6 separate regions of the Homo sapiens genome follow, and regions 1, 2, 3, 5 and 6 are each linked to region 4. Evidence: fine-mapped expression QTL. A gene starts in region 4. Each other region holds a variant in brackets. All regions are shown on one strand. Distances are between the middles of the regions. Region 1 overlaps MOB1A (MOB kinase activator 1A). Region 2 overlaps C2orf81 (chromosome 2 open reading frame 81). Region 3 overlaps M1AP (meiosis 1 associated protein). Region 4 holds the start of MOGS (mannosyl-oligosaccharide glucosidase). Region 5 overlaps RTKN (rhotekin). Region 6 overlaps SLC4A5 (solute carrier family 4 member 5).

Evidence for each region. PIP is the estimated chance that this variant, and not a neighbour inherited with it, causes the effect.
Region 1: its variant is the best candidate, but not a certain one, in a credible set for the expression of MOGS in CD4 T cells (BLUEPRINT, PIP 0.58).
Region 2: its variant is the best candidate, but not a certain one, in a credible set for the expression of MOGS in thyroid (GTEx, PIP 0.57).
Region 3: its variant is the best candidate, but not a certain one, in a credible set for the expression of MOGS in lung (TOPMed, PIP 0.53).
Region 5: its variant is the best candidate, but not a certain one, in a credible set for the expression of MOGS in liver (GTEx, PIP 0.63).
Region 6: its variant is the best candidate, but not a certain one, in a credible set for the expression of MOGS in prostate (GTEx, PIP 0.52).

What each region holds. Positions count from the first base shown.
Region 1 is chr2:74,161,904-74,166,008 of GRCh38, forward strand. It overlaps MOB1A (MOB kinase activator 1A), which reads right to left. Exons shown (of 6, transcript NM_018221.5): 4 at 3,315-3,448. Among named protein-coding and RNA genes, the nearest start is that of MOB1A, 15 kb to the right of the region's middle. The variant C/T (reference allele first, on the strand shown) is at 1,565.
Region 2 is chr2:74,410,959-74,415,063 of GRCh38, forward strand. C2orf81 (chromosome 2 open reading frame 81) reads right to left here. Exons shown (of 3, transcript NM_001316764.3): 3 at 3,219-4,105. The coding sequence ends at 3,371. Among named protein-coding and RNA genes, the nearest start is that of C2orf81, 8.6 kb to the right of the region's middle. The variant T/A (reference allele first, on the strand shown) is at 2,160.
Region 3 is chr2:74,643,333-74,647,437 of GRCh38, forward strand. All of the region lies in intron 1 of M1AP (meiosis 1 associated protein), which reads right to left. Among named protein-coding and RNA genes, the nearest start is that of M1AP, 2.9 kb to the right of the region's middle. The variant A/C (reference allele first, on the strand shown) is at 1,819.
Region 4 is chr2:74,462,857-74,466,961 of GRCh38, forward strand. MOGS (mannosyl-oligosaccharide glucosidase) reads right to left here and starts at 2,526. Exons shown (of 4, transcript NM_006302.3): 1 at 2,040-2,526; 2 at 1,640-1,866; 3 at 334-530; 4 at 1-156. The coding sequence starts at 2,391. RefSeq lists a silencer at 2,093-2,312.
Region 5 is chr2:74,435,514-74,439,618 of GRCh38, forward strand. The region is part of intron 1 of RTKN (rhotekin); the gene reads right to left. Among named protein-coding and RNA genes, the nearest start is that of RTKN, 4.4 kb to the right of the region's middle. RefSeq lists enhancers at 1,061-1,740, 3,875-4,105. The variant C/T (reference allele first, on the strand shown) is at 1,827.
Region 6 is chr2:74,268,331-74,272,330 of GRCh38, forward strand. All of the region lies in intron 8 of SLC4A5 (solute carrier family 4 member 5), which reads right to left. Among named protein-coding and RNA genes, the nearest start is that of MTHFD2, 72 kb to the left of the region's middle. The variant A/G (reference allele first, on the strand shown) is at 1,996.

The DNA.
Region 1 (4,105 bases), 300 kb before region 4:
CTGTAACTGCACCACTGCACTCTAGCCTGGGCAACAGAGTGAGAGTCTGTCTCAAAAAAAAAAGTAGATTTCAAAATCAAACATCTTTTTTTATCAGAATGTATAAATGGGCATCTTTCTAATAAAAGGATATTAATAATGTGCATATATTAGTAAAAAATTAATGATAAACAGTTCTGTCTGAGACTAAATAACTGGCAAAAGTAAGATGCAGATAATAGCCTAATGGCAGGGGAGTGGGATTAAGAGGTGGTGGATCAGAATGAATTATTTAAGAACAAGAAAGTGAGAAAAAAGCCAGGCATGGTGGCTCATGCCTGTAATTCCAGCACTTTGGGAGGCCAAAGTGGGTGAATCACTTGAGGTCAGGAGTTCGAGACCAGCCTGGCCAACATGGTGAAACCCTGTCTCTACCTAAAACTACAAAAACTAGCCAGGTGTGGTGGTGGGCGCCTGTAGTCCCAGCTACTTGGAGGCTGAGGCACGAGAATCGCTTCAACCCAGGAAGTGGAGGTTGCAGTAGAGCCGAGACTGTGCCACTGCCCTCCAGCCTGGGTGACAGAGTGAGACCCTGTCTCCAAACAAAAAAGAGAGAAAAGAGGATAAATCAAAAGAATTATTTACCTTCCATAAGCAGAGACTTTAATGAGTAAAGAAATAAGTAATTTGTTTAAATCTAAACACTTTCCAAGCTGAATTTAACAGATATATTCAAGCACAGTCAATATAAAATAAAGATATATGAGAAAGGAAATAAAAGGTTTAATAGCAGAATGGAAAAACTGACCAACAACAAACAGACCAAATGTTAACAACTTGGAAAAAAACTGTTGTCCTGAAAAGCCTCTATAAGACTGCAAAAAGGAATTCAAAAATATGTTGCTCATAAAATACTCTTAAGTTGAAAATGACAAGGAGTGATTTCATCCATGAATACTGATGCCAAACTCTTAATCAAAATATTAACAAATACTCTTCCAGCAGAATATTTTTATTAAAAAATGGAGAAAACCTTATGGTCATAGGCAACAGATACTGGAAAAGCATCTGATAAACTCTATAGCCATTCCTCGTTAAGAACAATTTTTGTAATATAAATGGTGGATATTTTTCATTAATATAATTTTTTAAAAATCCATACACCTCTAACCAAAAGCCAAGATTTCGGCTTACTGCAGAAATACTAGAAGTACTTGCATAATAGTAAGAAGGCAAGAAACGGATGTCTGCCATCATCACCATTACTCGGCATTGCGCTTGAAATACCACTCAGTGCAATCAGATAAGCAAGCGTAAAAACAAGAATACATTATCAGAAAGGAAGAGACAAAATGAACACTATCTTAATATGACACAGTTGTATACTTTAAAAATTCAAGAGAACCAACCAAAAACTAACAGAAAAAGAGTCTGATGGTTAATTATAAAATTTAAATAAAAATCAACAGCTGGCCAGTCCTGGTGGCTGACACCTGTAATTCCAACACTTTTGGAAGGCCAAGGAAGGAGGGATGCTTGAGCCCTGGAGTTCGAGACCAGCCTGGGCAACATAATGAGACCTCAT[C/T]TCTACAAAAAATAAACAAAATTAGCCAGGTGTAGTGGTGCGTGCCTACAGTCCCAGTTACTTGGGAAGCTAAGGTGGGAGGATCACTGGAGCCCAGGAGATCAAGGCTGCAGAGAGCTGTGATCACACCCCTGCACTCCAGGCTGGGGAACAGAGTGAGACCCTGTCTCAAAAAAAATTAAAAATAAATTACAATAAAAACCAACAGCTTTCCTATATACTAAATAACCAGCTGGAAACCAGATTATCAATAAAAGACATAAAATCCCTAGAATAAAATTAAGAAACTTGAACAACTGACATAAACTACAGAATTTTACAAGAGAAAATAAAGCTAAAGACATGAATAAATGAACAATATCTTGTTCTTGGCTAGGAAGATTCAGTAAAAAGAATCCCTATCTATAAAAATTAAATATAGTCATAATTAAAATCTAATTTTTTTTTCACCTTGACAAAATGTTTCTAAGTTCTTTGGAAAAACAAATATCCCAGAATAGCTGTGAATATTCTGAAAAAGAAGAGCGAGGAAGGGAGACCAGCCTTACAAGATGCTAACAGATGCAGAGCCACAGTCACCAACGTGTGGAATTTCTATAGGAACAGATAAAGAGACTAAAACATGCAAAAATATATGGCAATTTGTTGTGCACATAAGATAATCAGGGGAGAAAAGGCAAATGTGTTTAATAAATGGTAATGGGACAAACTGACTAGTATTTCCATTTGGAAAAAAATTAATGTAGCATTCAGGGAAAAAAAACTTCCCAGCCAGGCGTGGTGGCTCATGCCTGTAATCCCAACACTTTGGGATGCCAAGGCAGGTAGATCACTTGAGGTCAGGCGTTCAAGACCAGCCTGGCCAACATGGTGAAACCCCATCTCTACTAAAAATACAAAAATTAGCTGGGCATGGTGGCATGTGCCTGTAGTCCCAGCTACCCAGGGACTGAGGCATGAGAACTGCTTGAACCTGGGAGGTGGAGATTGCAGTGAGCCAAGATTGTGCCGCTGCACTCCAGCCTGGGCAACAGAGTGAGACTCTGTCTCAAAAAATAAAAAAATAAAAAAAGAAAACATGAATAAATATTTTTATAATCTTGAAGCAGGGAAAAGCTTTCTAATTGTTATATTAAAATCAAGTCATAAAAGATATAATAGGACAAAATAGTAAGGTTGTGTACAGCAAAAATACTCCATGAACAAAATGAGACAAAAGGTAACCCGGGGAAAAAGATATACAACACATACGACAAAGCGCTAATATCCTTTACACAGAAATAGATGAAAGATATAAACAGAAAACACACAATGATCAATAAAACAAACAAAAAGGCTAAAATGCTCAATCTCATCAACATTTTTTAAATGCATATTAAAACAGAAATTTAACCAAATTAGAAAATATTAAAAAATGAGTAATAACCAGTGTTGGTGAAGAAACACTGGCAAACACAAACAGGGCTGGGGGGAGTACATGTTGGTACAAACTTTTTGGAGGAGAATTTGGCAGTCTCTACAAGTATAACAATGTTAAAAAGAGCAGATTTATCATTCAAAAAGAGAAACAGGCTGGATACGGTGGCTCAAACCTGTAATCCCAGCACTGTGGGAGGCCAAGGCAGGAGGATCACTTGAGGCCAGGAGTTTGAGACCAACCTGGACAACACAGCAAACCCCCCCAACTCTATTTATATTAATAAAATAAAATTTTAAAAAAAGAAAGAATACTTCGACAATGTTAACTCACCAATCTTAGAAGGAAAAAGAGTTTCATCATCAAGCTGATCTTGAACCCAAGTCATCAAATAGTCAATGTATTTTGGTGCAGAACATTTGATTGGCTTTTTAATATTAGTACCATCTGCCCAGTGATATTCATATCTGAAGAGAAAAATGTTTTACTGATAAATTTTTCAAAAATATTAACAAATGTGCAAGTTGTGATTAAAACAGGTTCATTCACATTTTGTCAATAGAAGTTACATCTAACTTTAATAAATCACCTTAAGTTCTACTGAAGATTACTGTGAGTTCCCTATGTAATTATCCAGAAAGTGACAGTTATAACTGGAAGAAAAAAGGGAGATAATGTGGCAGGAGGCAATGCCAGGATAGATGTTTTATTAACAACACAGCCCTGGGAAACACAAAGGAACTGCATTCCTGTAAAGCAGAAGGTTGCTGAGGGCTGGGCATGGAGCCGATGGATCCACTACATTCTTCTGAGATTCTTGGTCATCAATTTATTATCATCAATGGACCCAAGATTATAAAACTCTGTTTTGGGGGCCAGGTGTTAGAGATATACATTAGGCATGCATACTTTCCCCCCTTACCTTTGCCGAGCTAGAAGGATTAACAAGAGTTATACAAAACATCACTGTGTAAAGCATTTGAGCCATAGGTAAGTTTAATTTTCCTGTTTATTTTCATTTCTTTTAAAGCTTGAATAATAAAACTTAACACAATATAAAATAAAAACATTCTTCCTAAAATATTATAATAAAAATAGAACTACAAACTCATTAGGGATCTTTT
Region 2 (4,105 bases), 52 kb before region 4:
TCAGTGCAGTCACAGAGATATGTACAAGGGGGCTAATGGAGCCCCATAAATAGGGGTGACTGGGGGAGGTGAAGGTTGGGGAAAGATCCACAGCAGAGGTGATATCTGTGCTGCGTCTTGGCAGGTGAACTAAAGTTAGCCAGGCCAACATGATGAGAAAGGATATTCCAGATAGAAGGAACCGTATGTGCAAAAACACAGCCAGAGGGTGAAAAAAAACAGACCGTGGTCCAAGAGCTGCAGATTGTCTGGCTGGAGACTAGGAGGTGGGTTAAGGAAGGGCAAAAGGCAAGGCTCTTAGTCAGCAGAGGGTTTTTTTTTTTTTTTTGAGACAGAGTTTCACTCTTGTTGCCCAGGCTGGAGTGCAATGGCGCGGTCTTGGCTCACTGAAACCTCCACCTCTCGGGTTCAAGCAATTCTCCTGCCTCAGCCTCCCGAGTAGCTAGGATTACAGGCATGCACCACCACGCCCAGCTAATTTTGTATTTTTAGTAGAGACGGGGTTTCTCCATGTTGATCAGGCCGGTCTCAAACTCCCAACCTCAGGTGATTTGCCCACCTCAGCCTCTCAAAGTGCTGGGATTACAGGCATGAGCTACTGCACCCAGCCTAGCACACAGCCTTCTAAGTGTAGAGAAGGGGCTTAGAGTTCATCCTACAAAGGAGAGGTTACCTTCAAAGGATTTTAAGCAAGAAAGTGTCATGATGAAAGGTGATTACTCGATGTGGCAGTGGGGAGAATAGATTAGAGAAGATGAGACAGGAAAGAAGTTTAAGAAACTGTCACTAAGCAAGATGCAGATAGTGTCGTGACATGTTACAATTTGTGGAAAGGGACAAAAACAATCATACTTGCAGGTGCATAGAGTTTTGCCTTTGTTCACTTTCCAATTGGGATTAATTTAGTTGACTGCTAAAGGATACGTGAGACTCCGGCAACAGTAGTTGCCTCTCAGGAGGGGAACAGGTGGCTTATGTACCAGAAGAGAAAAATAGTTTAAAAAAAAAAACCCTCTGTATCCTTTTGTACACTTTCAATTTTGTACTTTGGATATGTATTACCTGACCAAAAGAAAAATTGCTTTTCTTTTAAGGAGGCTATCACATTGCAAGGGGATGAGTAATTAAAAAATAATAATAATAATAAAGGGGCTATTATACAATCTAGGAGAAAATGTCAGAGAGAATGTTCCTGCCACCCACTCCCCGAAACTTTCCCTGGAGGAGCCAAACTTTCTCAATCAGAAAGGGCCTCTTCAAAGGACTTAGGCCCAAGGCAGTAATGTATCAACTGTATCATCTGTATGGCCTACACCTCTGGCCGACCCTGAGAACAGAAACTGAGTCTTCTTGCTTTCTCTGTTTCTGGTGCCTAGTGTCCCCCTCAAGAAGCCTTCATTGCAAAAACTACTCTACTGGTCTGGCTAGAACTAGGGGATGGGAGAAGGAGGTCTGGGATCTCATATCCCCTTGCTGATTATATTTTGGGCTGAATGATTCTTCTATCAGCCTTCTAATACTGACTTGTGCCAGCTGGGCTTCCCTGATGTGTGACACAAAAAGTGTGTTGGGTCACCACTCAGCAAACAGCTGGGTGCCAAGAGGCAAGAGGTGGTCCTGGGAGACAGTTACTAGAATGCCAGGGGTATAGGGAAGAGGGCAGCACAGAAGGTGCCCATCCTTCCTTACCTTGGAGTAGATTTGTGAGCAGAAAGGGCCCAACATAGTTAGTGACAAAGGTGAGATCCAGGCCCCCTGGGGTAAGTGTCTTCGGAATCCTGGGAGGAAATGAAAACACTGGCATTGAGTGATAAAGGGACCACCTTGAGGGAGACAAGGTCTGGGAGGGACATATTACCTTCAGCAGAAATGCCACAGGGGCACATACATGTGAAGATGGGGGCAATGAAGTTTAAGGCTATAACTCAATGTCAGCTTTTTAGGGGAGGGTATGGATTAGTGTTTTGGCAAGATTGCATAGACTAGGCTTTGAGGATACCTGTTTTAGAGTTCCTGAGCTAGAAAGGAGACTGCAGAAACATGTTTGGAGAAGCAAGCCAGGCACATACCACTGACTCCAGCATTGTTTACCAGCAGATGTATCTCAGGATTCTCCTGTAGAAGCCTCCGGGCAAAGCTCCGAATAGAGGTCATGGAGC[T/A]AAGGTCCACCTCGCCAAGCAGGAGGCGGTTGCTGTTTGAGGCTGCTTGGATCTCAGCCAGGGCTTGCTGTCCACATTCCCTGCTCTGACAAGTAAGGATCACTTGGGCCCCACACCGAGCTAGGTCCTGGGATACAACCTTCCCGATGCCTGTGGGAGGACAACTTCGGCTGGGTGGTGACTACAGTGAACAAGGGACACTCTAGGGGAGGGACAAGGGTGTTGATAGTGGATGCTCCTCCCTGCCTTCCCTGTGAGAGTTGTTGGAGGCTGAGGCCCATAGTGAGGATTCAGGGTGGGAGGAGCACTCACCACTGTTGGCCCCAGTCACTATGGCTATTTTCCCAGTCAGATCTGTGGAGCAGCACTGGAGGTCCCAGGGATGAGACTTCTGCCAGAGCTGCACATGTAGTTGAAGAAGACCAGAATAAGGAAGACAGAGCCAGCGCCCCAGACCAGGATGCTGAGTGCAGCCCACAGCAACATAGCAGAAACTTCCTGGGCCTGCTGGGGAAATGCTGTAGGAGGAAGTGGGTGCAGGATAAATCTGGGCAGAGTGGAGACTAGCAATGAGGCAGGTGTGGAGCCTAAGATAAAATTTAAGGAGGCACTGACTCTTGAGTTTGTTCAATATACTGTTTGAGTTTGAGAGTTCCTCCTTAACTTCAAAAGTGAAATTTGGATTTGCAGTCTAAGGTGAAGTGACCAAGCTCCAGGGACCAGGGAAGCAAGAAATCAAGTTCTTCATATCTCGAATCACTCTGTGCTTATGCGGGGCCTTCTCCTTCCTCCCCTACTGAAAGGAGACTCGAAGTTCTCTCTACAGAGCCAGACCCGCTGGCAGCCCTTATGTCTACTCCTTTGGGGGACAGGGGTTTCTCTAGAATGCCTCTGCAATGGGGCAGCTTTGGCCCTAATGCAGGGTCTCCTAAGGGTGGCGAGAGGGTTATTTCCTGAACCCTGGTTCTATCTTCTTCTAGGCCTGCAGGATAACTGCTCCCCTTGGGGTTCAGTGAGAGGGTGGACACCCTTGGAAGAAACTGACAAGAGACATCAGACTAGTTCCTAAGGCAACTCAGGTGTTTATTTCTGGCTAGCAGAGGGAGGGACCAGTTACTACTGCCAGAGGCTCAGGGATCAGAGGGAGGCAGCAGGCTTAGAGGAGCGTGACCACACTTTGGGGGCTGAGTTCTTCATTAGCTGTGCTACGGTCACCTGGGCTTTGGGGCACCTGTCTGGATGGGATGTTGCTCAACGGGAGGAAAGGTGCTACCTTCTTTGTCCTCTTGTTCAGGCACACCAGAGCTGAGCAACACCTGGGTGCTCCGGTTCCACATGCTCACACCAGGGGCCAGCTTCAGGGCTTCTGGCAGCAACACGGGCTTCCACATCACCTGGGAAGTGGCTTCAAGGACCGGGGGTGTGGTTCGAGGCCATCTGCCAGGATCCTGGCCCTCCCTGTCTGCCAGCTCCAGACCCTGTGGAGGCACGCGGGTCCGGCCAGCCCACAGCTCGCCCAGCAGCTCGGCCTTCCCCTCCCAACCGCTGGGCCACCTGACACTGGGCCACAGCTTGGGGCTGCGGCTGCGGGCCACATCAGGGAGCACCGGGTGTGTGGTGAGGAAGCGGATCCTGGAGTTTGGGAGTGGCAGCTTTGACTCGAGGGATGGCGACGATAGGCCTAAATTTAAAGTGGGGAACAGGAGTGCGGGGCCCGAGTCCAAGTCACGGAAAGGAATGCCTGGCCGGAGAGGGAAGAACGCTGCCGGGGAGACACGGGTGCCGGGGCCGAGGGCTTGGGGTTCGGCCCGGGCCTTGGTCTTCTCGCCCCGCTGGCGTCCGCGGTAGGCTTCCAAGGGGCGTGTTTGAGAGTCTGGGACCAGGACCTCAGCCAGAGGGCGCACCCAGTGGCACGGGAGCCTCGCAGGGTCCAGGCGTTTCACGGC
Region 3 (4,105 bases), 180 kb after region 4:
ATTCTAAGAAACATAATATTGAGTAAAAGCAGCAAGACACAAAGAATACATACACATGTAGCATGATTTCATCTACATTTTAAAAATAAGCAAAAGTAGTTATATTGTTTAGAGGTGCATACACAGTGATAAAATTATAAAGAAAAGCAAAGAATTGATTATCACAAAAATGAGGGTAGTGATTTTCCCTAGGAAAGAATGAAGGCATTATGATGAGAAGAGACAAAAGAAGGGGGTCCTGGGGTGTTGGTAATGTTCTTTTTTTTTTTTTTTTTTGAGACAGGGTCTCGCTCCATCGCCCAGGCTGGAGTGCAGCAGTGGCCCAATCTCAGCTCACTGCAACCTCCACCTCCCAGGCTCAAGTGATCCTCCCACCTCAGCCTCCTAAGTACCTGGCACTACAGGCATGCACCACAATGCCTCTCTAATTTGTGTGTTTTTTTGGTAGAGACAGGGTTTTGCCATGTTGCCCAGGCTGGTCTCAAACTCCTGGGCTCAAGCAATCCTCCCACCTTGGCCTCCCAAAGTACTGGGATTACAGGGATGAGCCACCACTTCCAGCCTAATGTTCTATTTCTTGATCTTTATTGTGGATATTGGGTATTCACTTTCTACTATTAAACTACACATTCATGTTTTATGACATTTTCTGTATATATGTTATATTTAATAATAAAAATATTTCAAGAAGAACATTAGGACAATCAAAAGAAAACAAAAGAAATATGATAAAAAAGATAGCTAAAAAATATGTCCCCACCTCTGAGAACTAAAATCATTCTATATAATTGTTTTTAGCTAAAGAATGTAGGGAAAATTAAAGCTTATTTGATTTCCCCTGTGACAATACAAAGATAATTATGATAATTTTCAGAAACACTTTGGAATTTAGAATCTTTAAAAATGATCTAAGAATACATAGATAGGCCGGGCGCAGTGGCTCACGCCTGTAATCCGAGCACTTTGAGAGGCTGAGGCGGGTGGATCTCAAGGTCAGGAGTTTGAGACCAGCCTGACCAACATGGTAAAACCCCATCTCTACTAAAAATACAAAAATTAGCCGGGCGTGGTAGCACGCGCTTGTAATCCCAGCTACTCAGGAGACTGAGGCAGGAGAATCGCTGGAACCCAGGAGGCGGAGGTTGCAGTGAGCCAAGATCGCGCCATTGCACTCCAGCCTGGGTGACAGCGCGAGACCCCGTCTCAAAAAAAAAAAAAAAAATACATAGATAGATGTATTTCCCCAAATGAATCAGTGAAGTTATTCTCTTCAAACTTCCCTTTTTGGATAGTGGAAGTCAGCATTTGTTCATTCAACATTTTTAAAAATTGAGTTCCAATTACGTGCTGGATACAGCTAGAAAAATAAATGAATTAATATGCTAATCTGTTGAAAGTCATCTTGAACCAGAAACCCAAATCAATTACTAATGTATTTACCAAGAAAGCACATAACATATTTTTAAACTGTACTTTAAGTACATGGGGCCAATTTCTACATGGAATGCTGAACTTGAAGCTGACACAGAGAAATTCACACAAACAGGTAGTCAGAGGCCTTATTTAATGTATAATTAAATTTAATTATCCATCTCCATCTCTCACATCTGAAAACGCCATTTTAAAGTAGAGGCAGGACAACCTGCTCAGGTCCCCTTCCACACTGTGGAAGCTTTGTTCTTTCGCTCTTTGCAATAAATCTTGCCGCTGCTCACTTTTTGGGTCCGCACTGCCTTTATGAGCTGTAATACTCACCGTGAAGGTCTGCAGCTTCGCTCCTGAGGCCAGGGAGACCACAAACCCACCGGGAGGAATGAA[A/C]AACTCCACACACGCCGCCTTAAGAGCTGTAACACTCACTGCAAAGGTCTGCAGCTTCACTCCTGAAGCCAGCGAGACCATGAATCCACCAGAAGGAAGAAACTCCAGACACATCCGAACATCAGAAGGAACAAACTCCGGACACACCATCTTTAAGAACTGTAACACCGCCAGGGTCCGCGGCTTCATTCTTGAAGTCAGCAAGACCAAGAACCCACCAATTCTGGACACAGTATTGCTGGGCCATAAGGCACGTATGAGTTTAGTTTTGATAGTGAGGTAGGAGGCGGGACTCAACTCTGCAGGAAGGGCTTGGACACCAGACCAAATTGAGGACTAGCTTAAACAGGGCGAGGGTGGAAGCAGCTTTCCATAAGACATGCCCACCAGTGTGCCCTGTCAGTTTACCATTGCCATGGCAACACTCAGAAGTTACCATCCCTTTCTATAGCAACGACTCTATGACCTGGAAGTTACCATGCTTTTCCTAGAAATTTCTGCATCAACTCCCCCTTAATTTGCATGTAATTAAAACTGGGTATAACTATGACTGCTGAACTACCTCTGAGCTGCTATTCTGGGCACACTGCCTATGGGGTAGCCCTGCTCCACAGTTGCAGTACCTCTGCTGCTGCTGTACACTGCTGCTTTAATAAAAGTTGCTGTTTAACATCACCAGCTCACCCTTGAAAAAAATAAAAATAAAAAAATAAAGTAGAGGCAGTCCTCATTTTGCATGGTTCAAGTATATAGATTTCAGTTACTACAGTTTAGTTAATTAACACTAGTCTTCCAACAACACAGTTCAAATTTCAGTTACCATGGAATATTAACTGTAATTACATAAAGTAGTATCTAGCTCTTTAGTTCACGAATTACTAGTTATCAGTATCAATAGTATAGTATACTGATATAGCGTACTGATATAATATAGTGATCAGTGCATCATGATCAGTAATTAATTATATCACTTCTTTCAAAGTCTGTTGGTGACCCGTCACTGCAGATCCATTAGTCAGTTAAAGCACAGACAGAAGTGTGTAGTTGTGTCGCCTCCTTGTCTCCTAGTGATAAGCCCATGTGATGTTTTATAAAAACAAAAACTGAAAGAGGAAACTAGCCGATAAAAGGAGCAGCAAAGAAATAAAAAATGATAATGCCAGGAGTGAAATCTGAATCTAACATAAGTGGAGTTAAAGGAGAAACAGCTGACTATGAGAGTGTTGACACTGCCTCCACCTGATAGACTCTAGAGAAGCAGCCAGAGGAATTTAGTGAAGGCAAACTTATCAACATACTTGAGGAAAGTCATTGTGATGAAAAGGATGAAGACATCCTACAGAAAGGGCCACTGGCAAAAAGCTTCATTATTAAAGAAACTTTCAGAGATATTTTACAAAATTGAAGGTACAAAGGATAAAATGTAGGAAACTAACCCAAACTTAGAAAGAAGTATGTCAGTTTGCCAAGACACACAAAAAATGTTTGCTCTCTCATAAGTTTTACTATGAGAGTTTTTTTTCAACAAATAAAACACTTTAGCTCTCAATGTTTCTAATGTTTTAAGTTAGTGTATGAAATAGTTTTACTGTTTTACATTTCCCTATACAGTTAGTAAGAAAGTTTTAGTGTTTTGACAATTTTTCAAGGTTATAGAACAACTGTAATTTTTCCCATTGGTGTTTAAGATCTCTTTGAATGGTTTCAGCTTGCAGTCATTTTTCAATCCCACACTAATGTGCAATTGGAAGACTGTATTTTAAATGAGGTAAGAGGCAGCTCTCTTCCTTACATCCTCAAACATCATCAATTCATGCATCTGATGTGTCTGGGCATAGTACTAAACAGGCTCTGACCTTATTCTGACCCTATACTCTCCACTTTTGCCAAGAACACTCGCTTAATGAATTCTCCCTGCAAACTGGTTAAAACTGGAACTGGGCCTTGAACCACTCCAAACCACCAAGTTATGCCCAAACTAAAAACCCTCCAAGGACTTCCAATTACACCACTGGAAACAGAATCCAATATCTTTACCCTGGCCCTAAAGTTCTGCTTGTGCCTTCTGCCCAACTCTCCATCCTCACACTAGGCCCTCCCCTGCCCGCACCCCGGGAGATCCACCTCTCACAGATCGGCTTCTCGCTGTGTCTGCCTCTGCGGATGTTCTGTTCCGTGCTGAGCATTCTAGGTTAGGGCCCCTTTACAAGCCCTCATTCACTTTGTCGCGTGATAAACGATTCAATGGTTCTCCCTCTGGCAGGGCCCTATTAAAGATTTCGTGGGC
Region 4 (4,105 bases):
GGACCTCTGTCCTCCCACTTCAGGGATCCTGGCAAGCCGAGGTAGCGTTCAGGGGGGGCCCCTGGGGGCCGATGCTGAAACCAGCTATTTAGGCGACTCTTTACCATCTCTGTCAGCAGGGGCAGTCCTGGGTTGGAGGTCCAGAAGACATTGTAGCTTGAAGGGGAGAAGATAAATAGGAAATATTATTCAAGAGAAGGCAGTGGGCATTATAAAGAGAAATACAAAGTGTTCAGGAGTCAGGTTGGGAGGTCTCAGGCAGGGGACATGGAGACTGGTGAAAATGGGAATAACCACCCCTTCCATCCCCCAACATTCTTTTCCCCCAGTTACCTGCCATACTTGGGGGCTGTATCCCCTGGACTGGTTGGTGGCAAAAGTGTAAAGCGGAAGTCACCAAGTTCACTGGTGTGCCCACTGATAAACTTCAACTGCCCCTTGGCCCCAACCTCTGGTAGTAGGACTTCCTTGCCATCTGTCACCACATAGAAGAACAGGGAGACCAAAGGGAGGGCAGAAGTACCTGAGTCCTGAGTGACCAACGAGGACAGAAAAGAACAGTGTTAGATTGGCATTCTCTCTTGAATTCCCTCTTGAGAATCAGCCTTAGTGAGGGAAAGGAACAGTAGGCAGGGGTAATGTAAACAACATACGTCTGGCAGTAATGAGGGTCACTGAGGGTAACCAGGTACACCCAAGCGGGATGAGATAAAGAGCCTTGCACTGGGTGCCCTGGGAGATAACAGTATACTTTTGTACTATGTCCTACACTAAGAACTCTACACAGTTGATTTCATTTAATTCTTTTTTTTTTTTTTTTTTTTTGAGGCGGAGTCTCGCTCTGTCGCCCAGGCTGGAGTGCAGTGGCGCGATCTCAGCTCACTGCAAGCTCCGCCTCCCAGGTTCACGCCATTCTCCTGCCTCAGCCTCCCGAGTAGCTGCGACAATAGGCGCCCGCCACCACGCCCAGCTAATTTTTTGTATTTTTAGTAGAGACCGGGTTTCACCGTGTTAGCCAGGATGGTCTCCATCTCCTGACCTCATGATCCGCCCGCCTCAGCCTCCCAAAGTGCTGGGATTACAGGCGTGAGCCACCGCGCCTGGCTTTTTTTTTTTTCTTGAGATGGAGTTTTGCTCTTGTTGCCCAGGCTGGAGTGCAATGGCACGATCTCGGCTCAGCGCAACCTCCACCTCCCTGGTTCAAGCAATTCTCCTGCCTCAGCCTCCCAAGTAGCTTGGATCACAGGCATGCGCCACCACGCCCGGCTAATTTTATATTTTCAGTAGAGACGGTGTTTCTCCATTTTGGTCAGGCTGGTCTGGAACTCCTGACCTCAGGTGATCCGCCAGCCTCGGCCTCCCAAAGTACTGGGATTACAGGCGTGAGCCACCGCGCCCAGCCTCTTTTTCATTTAATTCTTACAGTCCTGTGAGTTAAGTGCTATTATTATCTACATTGTACATTTTACAAGCAAGGAAATCAAGGCTTAGAGATGGTAAATAGAAATGGTTATACAGGCAGTTGTTTAAGGCAGGATTTAAGCCAGGCAGCCAGAGCCCACTTCATGCTGCATTTGCTGGCAGCAAGGGAAGGATGGAGGGGGTCTGGGCTGAGAAAAGGGTGTCCTGAGGCCCTGACCTGAGGCTCTACAGTCACTCTCCAGCTCCAGTCCCCTCCGTGCTGACCCCCAGGCCTCTTGACGAACTCAGTGGTGAGCCTTAAGGCCCCATCCTGGATGTGTTGGCGCCCGAAGGAGAGGCCGTCGTGGAACTCCCAGCCATAGGGACCCACACCGTCCCCCTGCTCACACGTGTGCCTGAGCTTAGGAGTCCCCGGGGTGGTGCCCTGCTGCGCCCACATCAGTCCTGGGGGTAGAATGGCCACGTAAGTCAAAGAGCAGGGGACCTGTCCCTCCGGGTCTCCGGGTCATCCCTCTTCATAACTCTCCTGATCCATTCCTTCCCACCCTTGCTCTCGCTTCAAGCTGGGGCGCCCAGATTAGGAGTCCGCCTGCCTGCCCGCCCTGGGGCCCGGTTACCGGTGAGGAGGGGCTTCGGGCTGCGGGTCTTCATGCCGAAGTAGACGTGAGGGCGGTAGGTTCCCCAGAAGAGGTCCGGGGCCACGGCGGGGCTGGAGGAGTCGGCAGGCAACACAGGAGGCGCGGAGTGCAGCGTGACCGCCCGCCGCGCACGGTACCACGCCAGCACCCAGCGCCCCGACATACCCAGGGCCAAAGACAGGACCACGACGGCCAGAGCCACTCCTCCAGCCGTGCTACGCGGCCCGCCGCCCCGGCCGTCCCGTCGCCCGGGGCCTCCCCGAGCCGCCCTCTCGGCTGTCCGCACTCCCTCTGCCGGCACTGCGCGGCGCCGCCGCTCGCCCCGAGCCATCCTGGCACTGAGGTCCGCGTCACAAGAGCTCGGAGAGGCGGCAGTGGAGCCCGGGTCCTGCCTCACCTCTCCGGCTCCCGCCTCTCGCCCTGGCGACCACCGTCCGGTTAGCGACACCTGCCAGCCAGCGCCTGCGCCTCCGCCTCCGCCTCCCGCCGGAAGTCCCGCCCCGCCACGTTAGGTTAAGTCCCAGAGTCCGGAACCGCTGCCTGCGGCTTGACACAGGGTTGGTACGTAGCGTCTGTCCTGGGCGTTGGTCCACCGGGATTGCGTTTATCTGGCGACCCCATGGAGTTCACAGGCTCGGAAAAACCAATCTAACGTTGGGCTGAGGCATGAGAATCGTTTGAACCCGGGAGGCGGAGGTTGCAGTGAGCCGAGATTGTGCCACTGCACTCCAGCCTGGGCGACAGAGCGAGACTTCGTCTCAAAAAAAAAAAAAAAAGACTGATGTGGCCAGGCACCGAGGCGCACATCTGTAATCCCAGCACTTTGGGAGGCCGAGGCAGGTGGATCACCAGACATGAGGAGTTGGAGACCAGCCTGGTCAACTTGGTGAAACCCCATCTCTACTAAAAATACAAAAATTAGCCGGGTGTGGTGGTGGGTGCCTGTAATCCCAGCTATTCGGGAGGCTGAGGCAGGAGAATTGCTTGAACCTGGGAGGCGGAGGTTGCAGTGAGCCGATATTGCGCCATTGCACTCCAGCTTGGGCAACAAGAGTGAAACTGTTTCAAAAAAAAAGAAAGAGAGAGAGAGAGAGAGATGGAGGGAGGGAGGGAGGGACGGAGGGAGAGAGAGAGAGAGAGAGAGAGACTGATGCTTTATGCAACACGACCACTTATATTTCACTATAATCTGACTGGTGGCCCCACTCTCCACTAGTGGTAGACTTTTTGCTTATGAAATCATCTGACCAAACCCAATGGTTAGTCCTGTTTTTGTCTTTCTTGCTACCGTTGCATTTGTCGACATCCTTATTGTAGCACTTATTACATACCTGTTTCATTTTTCATCTTTGTATCACAGTACTAATCAATTATAGGCATAAGGCAGATGCTAAATATTTATAAATTCAACACATGTTTATTGTACACCCTATATCGCATTATGCAAGGTGCTGGGGACTCAGAGAAAATGGCCCCAACCTCAAGTTCACAGTCTAGAAGCACAATGCCAGCACTCAATGCATGTTGAACCATACCCATTTTTTTTTTTTTTTTTTTTTTGAGACGGAGTCTCGCTCTGTCACCAGGCTGGAGTGCAATGGCATGATCTCGGCTCACTGCAACCTCTGCCTCCAGGGTTCAAGTGATTCTCCTGCCTCAGCCTCACGAGTAGCTGGGATTACAGGTGCCCACCACCACGCCCAGCTAATTTTTGTATTTTTAGTAGAGATGGAGTTTCACCAGGTTTGCCAGGCTGGTCTCGAACTCCTGACCTCAGGTGATCCACCCACCTCGGCCTCCCAAAGTGCTGGGATTACAGGCGTGAGCCACCGCGCCTGGCCAGACCACCCCCATTTTTACAGATGAGGAGAGTAGTTAAGACTGACCCAAAATAACAGCCAGTTAATTATGGAGCTGGGGAACTCAAATCCAGGTTGTTCTTTTGACTTTAGAATAAGGCCTCTTAGGGCAGGCGCAGTGGCTCAAGCCTGTAGTCCCAGCACTTTGGGAGGCAAAGGCGGGCGGATCACCTGAGGCTGGGAGTT
Region 5 (4,105 bases), 27 kb before region 4:
GAGGTGAGAGATGATGACTTTAATGGCTGCTCCATAAGTGCCATGTCATGGCACAACCATGCTCACAAGAAACAGCCTCTGTTTGCTTCTGGCTGAGGTGATCAAGGAAAGCTTCAGAGAGGAGTTGGAAGACTAACTCTATCACAGTGTACAGATTGGTTCAGGAGACAAGTCGAGCCATCCATTTGAAACAGGGGAACTAATGTGACCACTCCAAACCTGTCTTTTTCCTCACACCAGCTCTCCTCCATACACTGTGCCCTTGCATCTGTCCCTAGTGGCTCCAGCCTTCAAGTCTCTCAGACCCGAACACCCTAAATTCCCTCTTCTAAAAAGCCTTGTCCTGCCTGCCTACAGATGCTTCCTTGGCTATTTTCTGGGCCACTGTGCTAGGCCGGACTTTTATCACCTTCCCCCATCACCATCCACCCGTTTTCCTTCTGTAATAAGCCAACCCTTTCCCAAAGCCCCTCACCAGGAAGCCCTTTCAGACTACATAGGTCCTCCCAGTCTAGTTTTGTCTGCACCAGGGTTCTGCGCTGCCCGACAACCCCCACCCCAGTCTGCACCCAGCTTCAGCCACAAACATCCCAAATGGGTGAGCCTGGCAGGAGGGGGACACGGAGGTGTCCTCAACCCCCATCTTGGCTAGTCTCATCCCAGTCCCAGCACTCACGGATCCTTCCCCAGCCCGCTCCATTGCGAGAGGCGCGCAGAGGCGCGCGAGGTCCAGAGAGCTGCACTGGCCTGGGGAGCCGGCTGGGTCCGAGGGCCGCGGGAAATCGGAGGAGCCAGGGCGCCAGCATAGCTGCACCGCCTCCAGCTGCAGCGCTCAGGACGCCGGTGACATCAGCTCCCAATTGCCGCGAGAGCAACTGAGGGGTACCAGGGCGCTGGAGGTCCCTCCGGGCACCTGGCTGGGCTTGGCTCAAGGCGGTGCCTCCACCGAGACTCCATCGCGGCGGGACCGGACCTCCAGGAGTGCGCCCGCGCCGCCCTGGAAAAGGCTCCTGGCCTTCACGACGTGCTCCAGCTCCGGGAGGCCCCTCCCGCGTAGCGTTTGCCCTCCAAGGTGACCCCTTGCCTGAGAGTATGGAGGGCGAATAGTGTATAAATTGGGAGAGCTGGGGCCCTAGGGAGGTCACTGGGCCCAGCATGGATGAGTGGGACCACGAGTCCAGACACCTCCTCTATTTCCCTACTGATCTCCAGCCCCAAATCCACTCTCCCAAGGCCCAAGGCCGGGAGCGCCCTAGGAAACTGGCTCCCACCCTTTCAGGCAGAGGAACTGGGAATCCTGGCTCAGGATCTGGACCCTTGTGCTTCTAGCGTTTCCCCAACCCAGGGATAGTTCCTTGTTGCCCCCTCCCCACCCAAACACACCCTCTCCCCAAGCGGGCAGCATTTCCCCTGGGAAAGAGCGCAGAGCTGGGTGTCAGCTGGACCCGGGTCAGATCCCAAGGGGCTAGAGGATGAGTCATGGGCCCCACACACATTAGGCCCCCTGTTGATATCCCTTCCACCCCTCCCACTCTCTTAAGTCTCTGACTTCCTGCTCTGCTTCTCACTACCCTTTTTTCCCTTCAGAATCTCCACCAGGGCTAAGTACAAATCCTGGTTTAGGGACTTGACAAGCCCACAGAATTTGACCCCTGGAACCTGAGTTTGTAAAATGGGGAGTATTCCACCTCCTTCGTAGCATTGTTTGAGAATTATATGGGAAAGTCTCATCTCTACCTGGGCCTAGCACATATTTTAAAATAAGCCCCCTTTACTTGCAACTTGAGTCACTTCCTCCAGAAAGTCTTCTTGGATTTACTCTTCCA[C/T]GACTATCTCTTTTGCCATTCCCTGAAACATCAATGGGTCTCTCTTTTGAGGACCTGCTGAACTTGGTTGAGAAAGAACACAGCACCCTCAGCCACTCTCCTAAAGGAGAGTGACCAAAGTGAAACTAAGCATCTCCTCTGCCCCAGAACTTGAACAGGCCTTCCACAGAGAAAATTTACATTTTTTGGAGGAGGGTAGGATGCAGAATTTAAACATTTACATACCTAGACCAGCTCTGTCCAATAAAACCTTCTGCGGTGATGGAAATGTTCAGTAGCCATCTAGCACTTGAAATATGGCTACAGCAACTAAGGAATTAATGTTTTGTTTTATTTTAATGAACTAAAAGTAAGATTTAAATAGCCATATGTAACTGATGTGGACAGTGCAGAGGACTATGAATGGCAAATAGGTTTTATCTCATGCACTGATGGAGGATAATTAGGTAGAGTCCCAACGAGTTCACTGGACACCTTTCCACAAATTAGAAAAAGCTGACCCTCTCCAGGCAAACAAATTAGATAAACGTGCTCCCTCCTGATGCCGCTGAAACCAGACCAGGACTCTCACCTCTGGCTGGCACCTGTGTGAAGGACACAACCTGCACAGTTTATGCCAAGACGGTCCTGAGAAAGATTCTGAGGCCAGGTCTGGGCTCGTTGATAAAGAGTGCCAAAATTGACCAGTAACATCTACTATGATCCAGGGAGTGGGGGCAGGGCTTGAGGGGGGACAGCACATACAATATCCTGCCATTCCTGATCTAGACTCTTTGCAGTCCTGCCTCTGACCTCTCAGCAGCAGCCCCTGCCTGGTCCAGGCAGTCACTTCCACAACTTCCTCCATCTTCCCCATCTCCGTAAACAGCCACACCACCCAGTTGCTTAGCCACATACCTGGGAATCATCCTGGAGTTCTCTTTCTTTGCCCTCCCATCCAATCCATCAGCAAATCCTGTCAGACCTACCACCACCATTTGAAATCTACTCCCTTTCTCCACCATGAGCATTTTAATTCACACCACCAGGTTCACTCCCACCTGAAGTGGGAGTGAAACAGCCTCCCACCTGGTGGACATTTGCGAACTCTCTTGCCAACCCTCCACCCCCAACCCTACCCTCAACTTCCCACCAGCCTATTCTCCATAGCAGCCATCATTTAAAAACATGGCATGAGTCATTCCCTTGCTTAAAACCCTTCCATGGCCCAACATCACACTTAAGGTGAAATCCAGGTGCCTTATCATGGCCTTCAAGGCCCTGCATGATCTGGCCCCTGCCCATCAGCTCCACCCCAACTACTATATTCCAGCCACACTGGCTCTCTCTTTCCCACAAATATATTACCCTCATCCTCATATCAGGGCCTTTGCCCTTCCTCCAGTCTTCACATATCTCCAAATCCTCCTGGGCTTAGCTCAAAGATCTCCCAACAGAGGCTTCCCCTGACCTCCACATCTAACATTGCCTCCCTCATCTGATTTTCATTACATCCCCATTTTCATCATAATTTCTTTATGTGATATTATTTATGTGTTCGTATGTATATTTCTGTTCTCCCACTACAATGGAACTTTCTTGTCTTATTCACTGAGGTATCCTATGGTCGAAAAGAGCTTGGCAGATAGTACATAAAATTTACATGTGTTTAATAATACATAGCGCAAGGTGCAGTGGCTCACGCCTGTAATCTCGGCATTTTGGGAGGTCGAGGTAGGGAGATCACTTGAGCCAGGACCAGCCTGGGCAATATAGTGAGACCTCGTCTCTGTAAAGAATTGAAAAAAACAAATACACGAATAAACAGCACCTTGCTGTCTCAAGGGCCAGCAGAATCCTTACTCATAGCCCAGAGTCCTTCTCTTCTCTAGCAAGGCTACATCCTTTCTGTAAACCTCTCTCACATTGAACTCCTCTCTTCTTCCCATGCCTAAAAGGAACCCTTGTCCCCAGAACAGACATTTACACTCACCCACAGAGCTTCCTGAAATAGGTGTAAAGACCCTGCTGCAAACATAAGACTATGATGGGCAGAACTGAGCCTGGGTCCACACACTGCACCCAACACAAGGCATAGGGAACCACCTGTCCCTCTTCCCACTTTAAGCAGGCCTGGCTCTCCCCACCATGCTGTAGCAGGAATGGGCAGGGCAGAGATTGGGGCTGGGATGCAAGTGAAGGAGGTGTGTACTCCAAGGGTCGGGGGATTACCTCCAGGCTGAGTGCCATCTGCCGAATGTAGAGCATATTCAGGTCCTCCAGGATGTGCAATCTGTCCT
Region 6 (4,000 bases), 190 kb before region 4:
CTCCTCGTGCATGCATGCACATATGCCTGTGTTTGCATTAACTGTACATTAATGGCACCACAAGGACCTTAAGGGTATAGTATCTAATGGACATCCTTTCATCTCTATTAGTATTAACATCATTCTGAAGTCCTTCTAGTATTCCACTGTCTGAATGTACCATAATTGATAGGAACAGTTCTCAACTGGTAGACATTCAGATTATTTCTAATTATTCTTTATTATTAATTAAGGCTGGTTGGAACATCCTTGGTTCCTGCTCCACAATTTCTTTAGGATAAACTCTCAGAAGTGGAATTACTGTGTCTGCACATTTTTACATTTATAACAAGCATTACCAAACTGTTTTCCAGAAAGCTTATGTCAGTGCCCACTGCCACCAATGAGATCTTACATTTCCCTAAAGTCTCCCAGACTTTGGTATTTTCATTCTTTTTCACCTTTGTTCATTTGGTAGTTGAAAAATTATCTCACATTTGCACTCTTCTGATTACTAGTGAGATTGAACATCTTTTCCTTCATCAGATTTCCTCTTCACGTAACTGTATATTTTGCATTATCTATGTTTAACACCTTCATTCCATACATTTATTTGAGACAAGTTAACCAGGCACCTGGTGGGATCCTGGGGAATCAGATGGACACAGAATGGGGAGATCTAATTAGAGAAGGACTGGGAGGTGAAGACCTGAAACATGGGGGCTGGAGCCAGAGACCAGGCAGACAAGTTGTAGCTGACCTTTTTGTGGAGAAATCTGTTTGGGAAATATCATTTAAATTATGGCAGATCCAAGACTATGTGATATCGAAAGTAAGATGTTTCTAAAAGGTATATTAACATAAGAGTTTACAAGGAATAGACCAAAGGATAAGTTCAAAATTTTTTTTTTTTTGAGACGGAGTTTCACTCTCATCGCCCAGGCTGGAGTGCAATGGTGCAAGCTTGGCTCACTGCAACCTCTGCCTCCGTGGTTCAAGTGATCTCCTGTTTCAGCCTCCTGAGTAGCTGGGATTACAGGTGCCTGCCACCAGGCCCGGCTGTTTGTTTTTTGTTTGTTTGTTTGTTTGTTTGTTTGTTTTTTAGTAGAGACAGGGTTTCATTATGTTGGTCAGGCTGGTCTCAAATTCCTGACCTCAGGTGGTCCACCCACCTCCGCCTCTAAAAGTGCTGGGATTACAGGCGTGAGCCACCGCGCCCGGCCAGTCCAAATGTTTTAGTTGAGAGGATGCTCAACTTTTCTTCCTGAGGATCGACCTCCTATTCAGCTTGCCTTTTATTGTTTTTTTTTTCTCAAAAATAATACAAAAGATAAACTGAACTGTCACCCTGCTCCCAAAGACTCTTTTGCTACTCCATGGTCTTACCCACCCACCTAAAGGTGTGATGTGGCCCAGTGCATGGGGCCAGTTGAGTGGGTTGCTGTCTTCACTGTCTCACAAACATCCTAGGCCAGACAGTCTCAGGCAGCTCTCTCCCCTGACATCCCATTCTTCAGTCTTCTGCCCATACAAATGCAACTCCACCTGAAGGAGTGATAAGAGCAATGCTTCCTCTTTGAAACATCCTCTACTAACTCCAGATAGCAGATAGCAAAGACATGCAGTCCTCTCCACCTCTCAGGACTTCAACTATTTGTACTGTGTTAGGCATACACCAAACATTAACCCCATAGACACACAGACAAGGGCGATAACCCACATGAGAATAGCCTGCATAAACACTAAATTACTTGTCTCCAATTTTAAGCCAATGCCAGAACTAGACTCTGCTACCAGAATCCAGAAAATTTGATTTAAGAAATTCCGGAATATGAGACCATTTAACTAGGGACACCGCTCTAGTCCCCTCTATAACTATTTTGGGAATCCAGATGTTGAACCATTAAGCTTGCTACCTGGAACTTAATTTTGTGTTTTCAATGGCTACAGCTAGAAATTTAGCTCACTTTCACCTTGAATGGAAAAGGAAACATGGAGGACCAAAGATCCATAGCA[A/G]TGGTTTTCAACCTTGGCTGTCCATTAGAATAACTTGGAGAGATTTATAAAAATACCAATGCCTGGGGCTGGGCGCGGTGGCTCATGCCTGTAATCCCAGCACTTTGGGAGGCAGAGGCAGGCGGATCACGAGGTCAGGAGATCGAGACCATCCTGGCTAACATGGTGAAACCCTGTCTCTACTAAAAATACAAAAAATTAGCCAGGCGTGGTGGCAGGCGCTTGTAGTCCCAGCTACTCAGGAGGCTGAGGCAGGAGAATGGCGTGAACCCGGGAGGCGGAGCTTGCAGTGAGCAGAGATCATGCCACTGCACTCCAACCTGGATGACAGAGCGAGACTCCGTCTCAAAACAAAACAAAACAAAACAAAAACCAATGCCTGGATGGTTACCCCACCAGGAGGGTGACCCTGCCATGGAAACTCCCGGGTTATCTGACTGCACCCTGTGGGTTCAGGAGCCCCTGCTCTGTAGGTACATAGAATGGTGTGACTTAGGGATAGTTCAACTTATATGGGGTCCCAACGCAGGCAAACGTAGCTCACATGGATCTGATTCTCATTATACAGCAGGACATGGCCTCTTTCCCTTAGAATGGCTCCAAGAACACTAGCTGAAAGGGTCTCCTTTCTAGCACAGTCATGCTATGCTTTAGTTTCTCTGATTTTATAACTGAAGTCCATTTACAGTACATATTCTACTACACCAGTGTGCCTCAAACTCTAATGTGCATGGGGATCTTGTCAAAATGCAGATCCTCATTGAGCAGGTCTGGAATGAGGTCAAAGATTCTACATTTCTAATAAGCTCCTAGGTGTGCTCATGCTGCTGGTCTGCAGATCACCTCTGAGATCATGTAGAATGTCCTCTTTCCTCTCTGTTTTCCACTGCCCAGCGAGAATGCCCCTTCCTCCACAAAGCCTCTGCCAGTTATTCTGCTTATTTCTCCTATAACACCCTAGGATGGTTCTCAACCTGAAGCACTTTAGAAACCACTGTTCTAGGACAGTGATTCTTAAGCTTGCTTGCATATAAGAATACCCTAGATGCCTTTAAAATCTTCATGTCTCAGTCATATCCTAGACCAGTTGACATCAGAATAAAAACGGGTGGGATCCAGGCAACTCTGTGCTCCAGACTATCCTAGGTAAAGTTTCTAACTTCTTAGGCTCAGAGCCTAAAATAATTAATTAATTCAGGCTCAGTGCCTAAATTAATAATTAATTGTAGCCAATCATGTTTTATGATTGTTTTGGTATATAACAAATGCCAAATATACATTAAGCTTTTTGAAGACAGGTGCCATTTCTTCCTCTCTGGTGTCCCCTTATGGTCTCCTGCCCAGATCAATTGCATTAAATGCTTGCTCCCTTCTGCTTGAGGGTAGCAAGACCTCACTGATCACTTTGGGTGAGATCTCGCTATGAGGAAATGACTGGGGAAAAAAAGCTTAAAACTCATTTTGTTTAAGTATATTTAAAAATACTCAGAAGCCGGGCATGGTGGCTCACACTTGTAATCCCAGCGCTCTGGGAGGCTGAGGTGGGAGGATTGCTTGAGACCTGCCTGAGAAACAAAGCAAGACTCCACTATACAAAAAATAAAATAATTAGCCAGGTGTGGTGGCATATGCCTGTAGTCCCAGCTACTCAGGAGGCTGAGGTAGGAGGATTAAGTCCAGGAGTTTGAGGCTGCAGTGAGCTGTGATCGCACCACTGCAATGAAGCTGAAGTGACAGAGAAAGACCCTATCTCTAAAAAGAAAGAAAGAGGCCTTATCTTTTAGAGACATAATGAAATATTTACAGATGGAATGATGTGGTGTCTGGGATTTGTGTCAACCTGACCTAGCATGTGTGTCTGTGTGTCTGGGGTAGTAGGTGGGGGACAGAGAAACAAGAATTGCTATGAGTTAGCTGTTAACTGTTGAAGCTGGGTGATGGGCAGGTGGGGGTTCATTCTGCTATATACTACTTTTGTATAAATTTGAATTTTCCATAATAAAAT